2 linked regions of the Homo sapiens genome follow. The protein of the gene in region 2 interacts with the protein of the main gene of each other region in a pairwise test. Each region holds a gene or a part of one and is shown on either strand. Other genes may lie near its edges.

Region 1 (7,468 bases), on a different chromosome or scaffold from region 2:
GATTACAGGCACCTGCCACCACACCTGGCTAATTTTTGTATTTTTAGTAGAGACAGGGTGTCACCATGTTGGCCAGGCTGGTCTTGAACTTCTGACCTCAGATGATCCGCCCACCTCAGCCTCCCAAAGTGCTGGGATTACAGGCATGAGCCACCGCACCCGGACCCTCGTTCTTTTGTAAGGCTACTTTTCCGTTGGATGGCTCTGCTGCTTTTTGTCCATTCATCAGTTGGACATGTGGGTTGTTTCCACTTCGTGATTATTATGACTGATGCAGTGAGCGTTTATGTACAAGTTGTCGTGTGAACACGTTTTCAGTTTTCTTGGGTATGTGCCTAGGAGTGCAATTGCTGGATTGTGTGGGAACTGTCAAAATTTTTGAGGAACTGCCAAACTGCTTCCTACAGCAGCTGTACCATCTTACATTCCCACGAGTAATGTGCGAAGCTTCCAATTTCTCCACATCTTCACCAACACTTATTTTATATTTTTAAAGTTAGGCATCTTAGCGGATGTGAAGTGGTATCTCACTGTGGTTTTGATTTGCATTTCCCTGATGACTGATGACATTGGACATATTTTCATGCATTTAATGACTATTTGTCTATCTTCTTTGGAAAAATGTCTATTCGGAGTCTATGCATATCTGAAAGTTGGGTCATCTGTCTTTGTACTGAGGAGTAAATGTTGCTGCTGTGCTCTGGATACTACACCCTCAACAAACACAGGATGCGCAAATGCTCTATGCTGTTCTGTGGGCTGTCTGCACTTTCTTTGCAGTGTCCATTGAAACACAAAAGTTTTACATTTTGATGAAGTCTAATTCTTTGCTTATTTGTGCTTTTGGTGTTATATCTAAGAAACCATTTTCTAATCCAGGGTCACAAAAATTTACACCTATTTGTACTTCTAAAGTCTGATAGTTTTTTAAAAAAATATATGAAATGCTTTATGAATTTGCATGTCATCTTTGCACAGGGGCCATGCGATCTTCTCCCTGTCTTTCCAATTTTTAGTATATGTGCTGCCGAAGCCAGCGCAGAGTCTTAGAGTTTTAACTCCTACTTTTAGGGCTATGCTCCACTTTAGTTAATTTTTGCATCTAGTGCAAGGTAAACATTCTTTTGCATGTTGATAGTCTCTCGTCCCAGCATTATTTGTTGAAAAGACAGTTCTCTCCCATTGAATGGTCTGGACACCCTTATTGAAAATCAGTTGACTGTAGATATATAAATCTATTTCTGGACTCTGTGTTCAATTTCATTGATCTACATGTCTGTCCTTATGCCGGTGCTACACTGGCGTAATTACTGTAGCTTTAGGAAGTTTCGTGTTTTTTGTTTATTTTTTGTCTTTTAGTAAGTTTTGAAATGGGAAATATGAGTTCTCCAGCTTTGTCCTTTCTCAAGAGTATTTTGGCTATTCAGGGTCCTTTGAATTTCCATGTGACTCTTTTTTTTTTTTTTTTTTTGAGGTGGAGTCTTGCACTGTCACCTAGGCTGGAGTGCAGTGGTGTGGTCTCGGTTCACCACAACCTCCGCCTCCCATGTTCAAGTGATTCTCCTGCCTCAGCCTCCAATGTAGCTGGAATTACAGGCACCTGCCACCACACCCAGCTGATTTCGTATTTTTAGTAGAGATGGGGTTTCACCATGTTGGCCAGACGGGTCTCGAACTCCCGACCTCAGGTGATCTGCCCGCCTCAGCCTCCCAAAGTGCTGGGATTACAGGCATGAGCCACTGTGCCTGGCCACCATATGAATTATCTAATCAACTTGTCTGTGTCTACAAAAAAGGCTGTTGAAATTTTGGTAGGGTTGCATGAATATGTTGACCAGTTAGGAAAATATTACCATCTTAATATTGTCTTCCAATTAATGAACATGAGATATTTTTCCATTTTATTTGAATCATCTTTAATTTCTTTCAACAACCATTTTGTAGTTTTCAGTGTGCAAGTCTTTCAGTTGTTTTAAGTTTATTGCTACTTACTGTATTCTTTTTGATGCTATTGTAAATGGAGTTGTTTTCTTAATTTCATTTTTGGGTAGTTCGTTGCTAGAGCATAGAAATATACCTGACTTTTGGCCGGGCATGGTGGCTCACGCCTGTAATCCCAACACTTTGGGAGGCTGAGGCAGGTGGATCACGAGGTCAGGAGATCGAGACCATCCTGGCCAAAATGGTCATATTAAAATATGAAAAAATTAGCCGGGCATGGTGGTGCACACCTGTAGTCCCAGCTACTCAGAAGGCGGAGGTTGCAGTGAGCTGAGATCACTCCAGCCTGGCGACAGAACAAGACTCCGTCTGAAAAAAGAAGAAAAAAGAAATATACCTGACTTCTTATGTTGATCTTGTGTCTTGCAACCTGTAACAGCCGATTTTTAGCTCTGATAGTTTTTGCGTGTGGATTCTTTAGGGTTTTGTACATAAGACTGTTACTCCTCTTGACCATCTGCCTTCCCTCTCCACAGGCCCTATTGCTTCTGCGCCGGCGATCAGCACCCCCTGAAGAGCAGCACCTGGTGGAGGCCGCCAAGCTTCCTGTTCTCCTGAACCTGTCCTTTACATACCTGAAGCTAGACCGACCCACCATAGCCCTGTGCTATGGAGAGCAGGCTTTGATCATTGACCAAAAGAATGCCAAGGCCCTCTTCAGGTGTGGACAGGTGAGTTGGAAGCCAGTGACTTGGGAATAAACACCCAGGAAAAGGTAGTAGCAGTGCTCAACTCAGCTACTGCAAAAATGCTGTCTTTTTTTTTTTTTTTTTTTTTTTTAGACAGAGTTTTGCTCTTGTTGCCCAGGATGGAGTGCAGTGGCGCAAATTCGGCTCGCTGCAACCTCCGCTTCCTGGCTTCAAGCAATTTTCCTGCCTCAGCCTCTCAAGTAGCTGGGATTACAGGCATGCGCCATCACACCCAGCTAATTTTTGTAGTTTTAGTAGAGATAGGGTTTTGCCGTGTTGGCCAGGCTGGTCTGGAATCCCTGACCTCAGTTGATCCGCCCGCCTTGGCCTCCCAAAGTGCTGGGATTACAGGCATGAGCCACCGTGCCCAGCCAAATGATATCTTTTCTAACTGTGCTTTTAAAGTTCTCTCCTTGGGACAGGCTTGTCTTCTCCTGACTGAGTATCAAAAGGCCCGGGATTTTCTAGTTCGAGCCCAGAAGGAGCAACCCTTCAATCATGACATCAATAATGAGCTGAAGAAACTGGCTAGGTGAGCTGTGTTTGCAGGAGCATGAAGAGAGATGGGTGGGGTTGTGACTCTGGTCTGTCCCCCCACCCCCCCCAACAAAGGACAGTCTGGCGGTGTTGCCCAGAGTGTTAGGAGGCCGCCCCCTCTACAGCTGGGTTTCTGAAGTGCTCGGCCGTGCGCTGCACCAGCAGTTCCCAGCAAGCAGGTGAGACAGACTGCCAGACTATACATCTCCATCATCGCCCACCTTTCTGTTTCCCCTACCGCAAATAAACAACCCCTAGAGAGGTGGGAGGGTGTCACTTTTTTTTTTTTTTTTTGAGATGGAGTCCCTCTCTGTCACCTAGGCTATAGGGCAATGGCATGATCTCGGCTCACTGCAACCTCCGCGTCCCGAGTTCAGACGATTCTCCTGTCTCAGCCTCCAAGGTAGCTGGGATTACAGGCGTGTACCACCACATCTGGCTAATTGTTTTTGTATTTTAGTTGAGACAGGGTTTCACCGTGTTGACCAGGCTGGTCTCAAACTCCTGACCTCAGGTGATCCCCCCACCTCGTCCTTCCAAAGTGCTGGGATTACAGGCACAAGCCACCACAACTGGCCCCGGTGTCACTTAAAAAGAGTCTTCTGGTGCGCTCTTCCCTGCGTGCTCCACCAAGAACCACTGCTCCTAACCAAGTGCAGAAAGGCCCCTCGTAGGTCCTCATGTGACCAGAAACAGGCGTTTCGGGTCTGACTCATACCCATGGATTGACCTCCTTGTTACCCACGTGACTAAGCACACCAGTCTTTTAGTGATGTAATTTTTTCTCATTATAGAAGTTTTGTGTCCATTGTAGAAAACCTTGAAAATGTCTACCTATAAATAGGAGTCCCCCATAACTCCATCACTTGGTAATAGGTCCATGGTTTTTAAGGTATATCTTCTTCTGTAATGGTGAAATTCTCTACTTGTCTTAATATTAAACATTCGGTCCAGATTGCTAGTTAAAGCTTGCTTGGCATTAGTGTCTGAGATGTGAGTATCTCTTAGGTTACATTTCAAGCCTTTTAGGACTTGCCAGCAATTTCCTTTCTGGTATTTAAAAGTATCCTGTCAGATCTGGTCATTCTTTAGTGAGAAAATCAGGAGAGGTTAGAGGCTGCTGAGGGTGAGGGGTCGTTTGGCGAGACTCAGCCCGGAGCCTGGTGGCCAGAGGCACCTGCCCTTCAAGGCAGCTGTCCTTTCCAGTTAGGGGGTTTTGTCCAGGGGCTTGGCTCCTTGGCCAGCTGTGGGAGCCTTCCCTGCCTCCCCACCTCTCCAGCTTACTTCCATCCCTCCCAACTCAGTTTGAGTCCTGATAAATTTTCAGTGTTTCTGGATGTGAGTGGAGAATTCCAGCCACCAGATGTCACCTCCTCCAAACACAGACCTCCTCTAACAAGTGTGTATTTCCCTCTCCAGCTGTTACAGGGACTATGTGGATAAAGAGAAAGAAATGTGGCACCGCATGTTCGCGCCCTGTGGCGATGGTTCTACAGCAGGAGAAAGTTGAAGGTAATCAAAGGGCCAGGGTGGCACACAGGCTTCCGGATGGAGAAGCGTGCTGCTCTCCTCCACCCCCAAGTGAATGGTGGCTGTCTGCAGCTGAGGGTGGACGAGGGGTAGACAAGTTCCTTGCTGTAAAGAACAACACAACGGTAGTGCAGGATGCACGTGCTGCACGCCTACCTTTCCCGTGAGAAGAAAGTTCGCCCAGACCTGTGGGTTAAATGTATAGGTTCAGGGGGCCTTGAGCTATTTATTTATTTATTTGTTTGTTTGTTTGTTTGAGGCAGAGTCTCACTCTGTTGCCCAGGCTGGAGTGCAGTGGTGCGATCTCAGCTCACTGCAAGCTCCGCCTCCCAGGTTCAAGCGATTCTTCTGCCTCAGCCTCCTGAGTAGCCGAGATTACAGCTGTGAGCCGTGGCGCTCAGCCTAAATTTATTTTTTAAAAAACCTTTTTTTTTCATGTTTTATGTGAAACTCTCCTTGCAGTTGCTTGGAACATGAGACTGAGTAGAGTCATGAATGTGATGGTTGATAGAGCTGGGCTTTGACGTGTCAAGCTTCTGTTCATCTTCTTTCTCCTGAGAACTCGAAAGCCTCCAACTTGACTGTGTCTCTAACACATTACTAAAGCAGACAAGATCGCAGGGTGGGGATGGGCTGTGGCTCTTAAATTCTACTTTCTATTAGACTTAGAGATTTGAAGATGCTGAAAGCAACAGGGAGCGGAATATAGCATTCCTCCCAAGATCACACCTAGTAATTTTGCAGGCACAGGGCGGGAGTTCCCAAGCACATGAGATAACCCTCCAGTCTGAACCCTCCAGTCTGGTCTACTATTTAATAAAATTAATGGAAACAAAATCACCTGCCTGAAACACCTGCTTAGCTGCACAGATAACTCTGCTCTCTCGGAGAAGTCAAACAAGGAACAACAAGAAAACAGCTGCTGAACGGGCTCATGGTGATAAATCTCTCCTTTGTTGCTTCCTCCATCTCCCTACAAAAGGGGCTTGAGAGGAGGAGGCAGTGAAAAGGCCTATTCATCCCCGACATTTTCATAGCGGTCCATAAACTGCTGCTATCTGCACTTTCAGATGCGCCCACCAGCATCACAGGTAAATGTTGCCTTCGTCACTGATGCTGGCCATGTGAACCCTGGCCTTCAGGTCTTTCAGTGGCCTTTGGAGTACATATTTGCAGGTCTTCAGAACTGAGATGTGAGCCAGAGGACTTCCCTTGTTTGGTCACTTCTAGTATCCAGTAAAAATGAAGGGCAGTGACTGTTTGCCAAACATTTTGGACTGTGACCCCACAAGTCCTGTCATGAATGAAGACCCAGGTCTGCCAGGGTCCATCCCAGACAAGGGCTTGGGCAGCCCAGCTGGGCAGCAGTTTTCCTCGCCATCATGTTTGCTTCCCAGCCTTTTCAGTCTGTAGGACTGGAGGCTGCTGATCTTCAGATGCTTTCCCCCAGATTTCCAACTCCAGCATTTATCTTACCATCAGCAATGACTGTATTTGTGTTCTAAAGTAGCCACCACTGTCATATTGCCACTGCTGTCACAGTTGTGATAAGTTTTAGCTTTTGTGTCTTTGCTCTCCCTGCTCCCCTTTTTTTCTGTAGTATTTGAGGCCTAGTCATTTAAAAGAAGCTAAAAATCCAGTCATCTTGACAACCTAGTTGTCACTAACCAGGACAATTTTTTTTTTTTTAAGGGTCTCCCTCTGTCACCCAGGCTGGAGTGCAATGGCACAATCTTGGCTCACTGCAGCCTCTGCCTCCCAGATTCAAGTGATCCTCCTGCCTCAGCCTCCCGAGTAGCTGGGACTGCAGGTGTGAGCCACCACGCCTGGCTAATTTTTGTATTTTTAGTAGAGACAGGGTTTCACCATATTGGTCAGGCTGGTCTCAAACTCCTGACCTCAGGTGGTCCTCCCGCCTTGGCCTCCCAAAGTGCTGGGATTACAGGCCTGAGCCACTGCACCTGGCTTAGGACAATTTTAACTTTTGTTCTTTTCATCTTAGATGTTAGATACCACTGACTTGTAAGATTACTTCTGGAGGAATGAGTGTTCTCTTAAGTATTAGTTATGTGCTCTAAGCCTCTGACTATAGTAGACAGTATGCCTTTTCCATCTTTGCATTTTCTAGCTTCTGGAGCCATGCCAGGTGCACGATTGGTGCTCAGGAAATGTTGGTTGGACTAAGTGTGAAATAGCCGAAGCAACAGACCAGCCTCTAATAAAACATCCTCCAGGCTGGCTCTGGGATTGGCTGTTGGACCCTTGGTATTGCCAGGGACAGAAACCTATCTTTAGCATCAGCCAGAAAAAAAAAAAAAAAAAAAAAGATTTGCAGAAGGGGTCCTGGGAGTGGCTCACAGAGTTGAGGAGGAGTTTGGCAGTCCTTGGGCAGACAGTGACCAGGCAGCTCTGAGGGCCTTAGGGACTCAGTCTCCCCTCGGCTTTGTTTTCTCCCCCTGTAGGGAGTGCCCATACATCCCTTTCTGCAACCTCCTCCCTAATGGAGTGAGAGTTCTGTACCCTAAAAGTCCCTCCTCTTCCTGCCCCAAACATAACTCTTCAGTTTGAAAGATCCTGGGCAGGACTCCGGCCTGGTTGGGGGTATGTAGAACCCCATGAATGGGAGTTTGTGTTTTGTCCTTCCTATCCTGACATGCTGGTATCTGAGGCCCTTGTGATCATTTTACTGTGTCTGGAAAGGAGCTGTGAAG
Region 2 (7,936 bases):
TCCCTCAAGTTTTGGTGAGGGACCTTTCTCCCTCTTGCTTTTCAGTGGAAGGTTAGCAAGCCTCGTTTGTCTGGGTTATAATTTTTACAACTTGTAGGTTTTGATGATGTATTGCCAAGTATGGGAAGCTATGTTTAAAAGTGTCAGAAGGCTCAAGAAGAAGTGGAAATGAGCTATGTAGTCAGAGTTTCCCATTTGGTGTAAATGAAGAAGTTACAGTTGTGCCAAGATATTGACCTGTTCAGTCCTTGGGCAGTCAGGCAGGCCTGTGATGACTGGGGGATCCTGACTGACTAGCCACCAGCAGCCTTCTCTGCTTATCCCAGCAGACCTGACAAATAGCTTTTTCTACGTGTGCCATGAAGCAGTTGGGATGCAGTTGTATTACAGCAGGATGAATGTGTTCCTTCCCATAGAATTGTGATGTTTTATGGTTTGTAACCACGGTGGAAGATGGATGGGATAGGAATTTAGGAAAAATAGTTCCAAATGGTAGGAGCTTTCACGTGTATCTGATTTCATAGCTAAATAGCCATCAAAGAGTTAGAAAGCAAGATTAAATTCATTCAGTTAACAGTATTCCAACCTGACTTTAAAAAAGAAAAGGCAGCCTTTGAGTATGTTTAGTTTCTCTGATGCCACTGTCTGTTCTTCCCTGATACGCATTTAGGTTCAGTCTCATATTTGTTAAGTGTGTTCTTGAGAACTTCTTGTGAACCTCTATGTTCCACTGTAAGTGGTGTCATATTAACCAAGCGATTTGGCCATATTCTTAAAGGTTTTATATCAGGAAGTTACTTTATATGATACAAGAATGTTCAGGCCGGGCACGGTGGCTCACGCCTGTAATCCCAGCACTCTGGGAGGCTGAGGCAGGCGGATCACCTGAGGTCAGGAGTTCGAGACCAGCCTGGCCAACAGAGTGAAACCCTGTCTCTACTAAAAATACAAAAAAAATTAGCCGGGCTTGGTGGCGGGTGCCTGTAATCCCAGCCACTCGGGAGGCCGAGGCAGGAGAATCGCTTGAACCCGGGAGGCAGAGCTTGCAGTGAGCCGAGATCGCGCCACTGCACTCCAGCCTGGGTGACAGAGCGAGACCCTAGCTCAAAAAAAAAAAAAAAGAATGTTCAAATAAATCTTTATGTTACTTCTATAAATTTTCCAAATTTATTCAGTGCTTACAGTTTATTCTGTTATCAGTAATGAAATGCAATGCCTGTCTTTTGAGTAGCAAATGAACTCACTATTCAAGTGGTTAGCACTAATCTTTTCACTAACTTTTCATTATTTCAGACTCAGACAGGACCATATGTCATTAACCCCTGGTTATTAGTAAAAATAGCTTTGGCTTTGAAAACAGTTGAGGCAGGACATGGTGGCTCACACCTGTAATCCCAGCACTTTGGGAGGCCAAGGCAGGTGGATCACTTGAGGCCAGGAGTTCAAGAACAGCCTGGCCAACATGGTGAAACCCCGACTCTACTAAAAATATAAAAATTAGCTGGGCATGGTGGCACACGCCTGTAATTCCAGCTACTCGGAAGGCTAAGGTAGAGAATCGCTTGAGCCGCAGAGGTAGAGGTTGCAGTGAGCTGAGATTGTGCCACTGCCCTCTAACCTGGGTGACAGAGCATGACTCTGTCTCAAAAAAAAAAAAAAAAAAAAAACAGAAACAAAGAAAATAAACAGTTGAGAATAAGGCTTGCTTGGGGTTTTTCTTCCCTCTCTCCCACTCTCCCTTGTTTCTTTTCTGCAGCTTAGCATTTTTCTAGGGATAAGTTCCCAGCTGGCACTGAAAAATTTTAACTGACTTTACGGGGCAGGCAAGTTATGATTCACCAGAATTATGGCTTTACGAGGCCTCCAGTATCTGTGAGGGCCTAGATATAGTTTTACCTTTTGTTTTCTGGGCCTTTCATTTTGTCCAGTTTTTATCTTTAAGTCTTCATTGACTTATGCTGGCTGACTTAAAACTTAAGAGTAGTTGGAGTGCTCTAGTTTGTGTTTGGGGTGATTTAAAGCTAATGATGTGTTACTTTTGGCACTAGGGGGAGGTGTTGCCTAGTTCCTTAAGTGGTTAACCTCTGACTAGGTCTAGCTCTGTTTGTAATGACTGGTCAGCCAAAATCAACCTTCCTGCTTTCTCTCCAGCTGGGCACAACTTTTGCACAGCACTCAAGTATCTTTTTGTTATTAAAATATATCCTTCAAAAGAAATACTCAATACTTACTTAGCACTTAAAATTCCCAAGTCATTCTTAGGTATTGTTGCCAAAGCTTCTGAAGCTGAAGTAGGAAACTAAATAGATCAGTTTCATTTTCCCGAGGTTCAGAGGTAAAGAACTGACGTAGGAAGCAGGAGTCCTGGATTCTGGTCCTTTCTGTTTTTTTTATTGCTAGAGTGCAGTGGCACGATCATAGCTCATTGCAGCCTTGATCTCCTAGGCTCCAGTGGTCCTCCAGCCTCAGCCTCCTGTGTAGCTGGGACTACAGGTGTGTACCATCAACCTGGCTAATTTTTATTTTTGTCGACACTGGGTCTCACTATGTTGCCCAGGCTGGTCTCAAGTTGGCTTCAAGTGATCCTCACATGTTGGCCTCCTAAAACTCTGGGATTATAGGGATAAGCCACCATGCGTGGCCTGATCCTTTTTCAAATATGATTTTACTCTGTGACCTTCTCTAAGCCTGAGGCTAGATGAGCTCTCTGATCCTCAGATAGATAACACCTGTTATGGGATATAGTTCCCTCTGCCCATTTTGTGCCTGCATCCAGTTGGGTACATGCCTGGTCTTCTGTATATTTGGAACAGATATCACACACTTTTATGGTGAGAGTTGTGGGGCCTTACCCGTATTTGAAATACCATCAGTGGAAATTTAATTTTTCATTACTACCTTTGTTAAAATTAAATTACCTGTTAAGAATAACCTGGGCCGGGTGCGGTGACTCATGCCTGTAATGCCAGCACTTTGGGAGGCCGAGGCAGGCACATCACCTGAAGTTGGGAGTTTGAGACCAGCCTGACCAACATGGAAAAACCCCATCTCTACTAAAAATACAAAATTAGTCGGGCATGGTAGCGCATGCCTGTAATCCCAGCTACTAGGGAGGCTGAGGCAGGAGAATCACTTGAACCCTGGAGGAAGAGGTTGTGTTGAGGAAGATCACACCATTGCACTCCAGCCTGGGCAACAAGAGTGAAACTCTGTCTCAAAAAAAAAAAAAAAGAATAACCTAACAACTTCTATCATATACCGTTTTGGTTATTTTTTCTAATGCCACAGTTTAGAGGGAACAGAACATGAAAATATGAATTTCTAGAAATTAACTTTTTTTTTTTTGAGACAGAGTCTCACTCTGTTGCCCAGGCTGAGTGCAATGGCGCGATCTCGGCTCACTACAACCTCTGCCTCCCAGGTTCAAGTGATTCTCCTGCCTCAGCCTCCTGAGTAGCTGGGATTACAGGCATGTGCCACCATGCCCAGATAATTTTTTGTATTTTTAGTAGAAATGGGGTTTCACCCTGTTGGTCAGGCAGGTCTTGAACTCCTGACCTCATGATCCAACCGCCTCGGCCTCCCAAAGTGCTGAGATTACAGGCGTGAGCCACCACACCCGGCCTTTTTTTTTTTTTTTTTTTTTGAGACGGAGTTTCGCTGTCATTGCCCAGGCTGGAGTGCAATGGCACGATCTCGGCTGACCGTAACCTCCACCTCCCAGGTTCAAGCGATTCTCAAGTCTCAGCCTCCTGAGTAGCTGGGATTACAGGCATGCACCACCATGCCTGGCTAATTTTTTTGTATTTTTAGTAGAGACGGGGTTTCTCCATGTTGGTCAGGCTGGTCTCGAACTCCCAACCTCAGGTGATCTTCCCGCCTCGGCCTCCCAAAGTGCTGGGATTACAGGCATGAGCCACTGCGCCCGGCTGAAATTAATTTTTAATTGACACAATAACTGTACGTATTTATGGGATACATAGTGATGTTTCAATTCATATAAGATATAGTGATTTGATCAGAATATTTAGCATCTCAGACATTTATCATTTCTTTGTGTTGAAAATATTCAAAATCCTCCTTCTAGCTATTTGAAACTATAATATATATTATTGTTGACTATAGTCATCCTACAGGGATATAGAACACTAGAACTTATTCCTCCCACCAAGCTGTAACTTTGTTTCCAAAAAGTACATTTTGGTGGGGAAAGAGAAGGAATCACTCTATAGAGTATTGGGTGTCCCCAAGAGAATGGGTAAGATAAGATAGGATGGTGTAGTAGAGTGCTTGAGGCAGCCAGGAATGCCTAACGAAGAGATGCCAAAAGGAAAGAAAATTGTCCAACAGCTGGCAGGAGGACAGGAAAGCTTTCCCTAATTTTGCTGAAGGTGATCAGAGTCATAGACTCTTAATAGTTGAGGAGAATAATAATTTAGTTATTGCTTAGAATTGACAGATTTCTAGGAAAAATCTGATAGCACTGTGTTTACACAAACCATAAATAATTAGCCTTGAAAATGGGGTTGGGGAAATAAGTAACATTCAACAAAAACACTCATCCCTTTGTTAGTTTTTATTTAGTTCTTTGGAATAACCAGTTTTTGTTTTAAAATATTTTAGTTATTCTATTTCTCCTTGCTTTTTCAGATTTGCTCATTAAGAAAAGTGATTGTTTCTTCCTGTGTGTGGCTTTGAGGGTTCAATTTTCAGAGTTTCAGAATTTACCACGCTGTTAAACGTGGTTAGTCATTCATACACCACACTGGCAGTTAAGAATGATGTTGGCTGGGCACGGTGGCTCACACCTGTAATCCCGGCACTTTAGGAGGCCAAGATAGGAGGATCACTTGAGGCCAGGTATTCAAGACAAGTTAGGTCAACAAACCAAGACCTGATCTCTACAACAAATCTAAAAATTAGCCAGGCATGGTGGCAGGCTCCTGTAATCATAGCTGCTCTGGAGGTTGAGGCAGGAGGATCACTTGAGCCCAGGAGTCTGAGGCTGCAGTGAGCTATGATGGCACCACTCCACTACAGCCCATGTGACAGAGCAAGACCTTGTCTCTTAAAAAACAACAACAAAAAAGAATGATGTTAATTCACAAAAGAGATAATCTTATATTTGAACAGTGCCCCATATCACTTTAAACCATTTTAAGTAGTTTTCCTTAGTAACTGAACAAGTCTAAAGGTGACTTGATTTGTTAAGTAGTTTTTCATCCCATTTGGGATTTTTTGTGTGCGTTTTTGTAACTGTTAACAGTAGCAGCTTTGAAAATAGACACTACTATATGTGTGACTTTGTGGCTTCTTAAATGGTTAAAACTTACCAAAATGCTAATATTGAGAGCAGAAATTATTTTACTTTATCTTATTGATTATTTGTTTTTTATGCTCTTTCATTGGGTAAGTTTAGTGATTATTCTAGATTTCAGGAAACTTTTGGTCAGAGCAAGCAGAAGAGCTAGCTGGGCTTAAGCAGCATTTTATCTTTGTTTTTTCAGTGATTGCCTTCATGTTGTGGAGCCCATGCCTGTGCGGGGGCCTGATGTAGAAGCATACTGTCTACGCTGTGAATGCAAATATGAAGAAAGAAGCTCTGTCACAATCAAGGTAAAATATATATCCCTCTATCTACCTGTCTGTCTGTCTGTCTACGTCTTTTCTGCTTCTGGATGGTTTCTAGACAAGACAGAAAAATTTGGACCCCTACCCCAAAAGGAATAATGGGCCTGTTCTGCCTGCCTCACTGACATGGTTTGTGGATTAGTTAGGGTATGTTAGATAGATATGTGAAATGGCACAAAAATGCCCTATGTGTAATTAGCATATTCCAGAAAGATATCCCAGCTTCTGTGTAGGCCATGTGTGCCAGAGGCTGAGAGAGCAGCATTTATAAGCCCTCCTCTCCTTGCCTTTCCAGCCCTTTGAAAAAATTAAATATATAGTAATTATTCTAGAACTATTACTTCTGGATTTTAAGATTTCCCCTCTTCATTTCCTGTAGGACAGTGGTCCCCAGCCCCCAGGCCACAGCCCAGTCTGTGGTCTGTTAGGAACTGGGCCACTCAGCAGGAGGTGAGCAGTGGGCAAGTGAGCAAAGCTTCATCTTATTTACAGCTGCTCCCCATCATTCGCATTACCACCTGAGCTCCACCTCCTGTCAGATGAGCAGCAGCATTAGATTCTCATAGGAGCATGAACTCTATTGTGGACTGCACATGTGAGGGATCTAGGCTGCATGCTCCTTATGAGAATGAGAATCTAATGCCTGATGATCTGTCACTGACTCCCATCACCCCCATATGGGACCGTCTAGTTGCAGGAAAACAAGCTCAGGGCTCCCACTGATTCTATGTTATGGTGAACTGTATAATTATTTCATTATATATTATAATGTAATAATAATAGAAATAAAGTGCACAATAAATGTAATGTGCTAGAATCATACCCAAACCATCCCCTACCACCCCTGGTCCATGAAAAAATTGTCTTCCATGAAACTGGTCCCGTCCCTGGTGCCAAAAAGGTTGTGGAGTATTGCTGTAGTAAATGGGATGTAGATCACTCTCATCACCATTTGTATTTCTAATGAGTTCAGTTACTTTATTATAGTGGCTAATGGTTTTTCTTCCAATTTTTTTTTTTTTTTGAGATGGAGTCTTGCTCTATTGCCCAGGCTGGAGTGCAGTGGTGTAATCTTGGCTCACTGCAACCTCCGCCTCCTGGGTCCAAGCGATTCTCCTGCCTCAGCCTCCTGAGTAGCTGGGATTACAGGCATGCACCACCACGCCCAGCTAATTTTTGTATTTTTAGTAGAGACAGGATTTCACCATGTTGGTCAGGCTGGTCTCGAACTCCTGACCTCGTGGTCCACCCATCTTGGCCTCCCAAAGTGCTGGGATTGCAGGTGTGAGCCACCGCGCCTGGCCTAATTTTTTTTTACATGGCACTTCCCATTCCTTTCCCCCCAAAAGGCCCTGTGGGGAATGTGGGGTGGTTAGTTATAATAGTCACAAACATTTCTGCTGTGATTGACCCTGTGGAAGAGCTCTTGCTCCAGCAGGGTGCTGAACTTTAGATAAATCCTCACTGTACTATTATTTAACAGATTTGTAAAAAATATACAACTTATGTACCCTAAAAGTCACTCACTATAAGTATACAATTCTATAAATTTTAGTAGATTTAAAACATTTTAAAATCCAGTTTCAGGCCAGGCATGGTGGCTCACATCTATAATCCCAGCACTTTGGAAGTCCGAGGCGGGTGGATCACTTGAGGTCAGGAGTTCGAGACCAGCCTGTCCAACGTGGTGAAACCCCATCTCTACTAAAAATATAAAAATTAGCCAGGTGTGGTGGCACGCACCTGTAGTCCCAGCTACTTGGGAGGCTACGGCATGAGAATCACTTGATCCTGGAGGCAGAGGTTGCAGTGAGCTGAGATCGTGCCACTGCACTCCAGTGAGACTCTGTCTCAAAAAAAAAAAAATAAAATCCAGTTTCAGAACATTCCCACTACCCCAAAAAGATCCCTCATGCCCATTTACAGTTAATTCCCATTTCCAGCCCTACTCGGTCACTAGTCTACTTTCTGTCTCTGCATACATGGACATTTCATGTATATGGAATCATATAATATATAGTCTTCTGTGACTGGCTTCTTTCATTTAGCACAATGTTTTTGATGTTTATGCAAGTTGTAGCATGTATCAGTACTTCGTTTCTTTTTATTGCTGAATAGTATTTCACTATATGAATATGCATTTATCAGTTGATGGACGTTTGGATTATGTCTGGGTTTTTACTATTATGAATAATACTGTTGTGAATATCTGCACATATGTCTTTGTATGGATATATATGTTTTCCATTCTCTTGGGTTAATTCCTTAGAATGGTAAAATTATGTTTAACTTTTTAAGAGACTGC

The links. The genes of interacting proteins can lie anywhere in the genome.
Region 1: the proteins of TMEM9B (region 2) and FKBP6 interact in binary tests that used the Homo sapiens proteins (3 or more experiments, as listed by UniProt).

What each region holds. Positions count from the first base shown.
Region 1 is NC_000007.14:73,338,161-73,345,628, forward strand, and holds part of FKBP6 (inactive peptidyl-prolyl cis-trans isomerase FKBP6), read left to right. Parts: intron 1-2,477; coding exon 2,478-2,672; intron 2,673-3,095; coding exon of another isoform or gene 3,096-3,112; coding exon 3,113-3,222; intron 3,223-4,646; coding exon 4,647-4,737; 3' UTR 4,738-4,739; intron 4,740-7,468. UniProt on the Homo sapiens protein: Has an essential role in spermatogenesis. It is required to repress transposable elements and prevent their mobilization, which is essential for the germline integrity.
Region 2 is NC_000011.10:8,953,870-8,961,805, reverse strand, and holds part of TMEM9B (transmembrane protein 9B isoform a precursor), read left to right. Parts: intron 1-5,507; coding exon 5,508-5,616; intron 5,617-7,936. UniProt on the Homo sapiens protein: Enhances production of pro-inflammatory cytokines induced by TNF, IL1B, and TLR ligands. Has a role in TNF activation of both the NF-kappaB and MAPK pathways.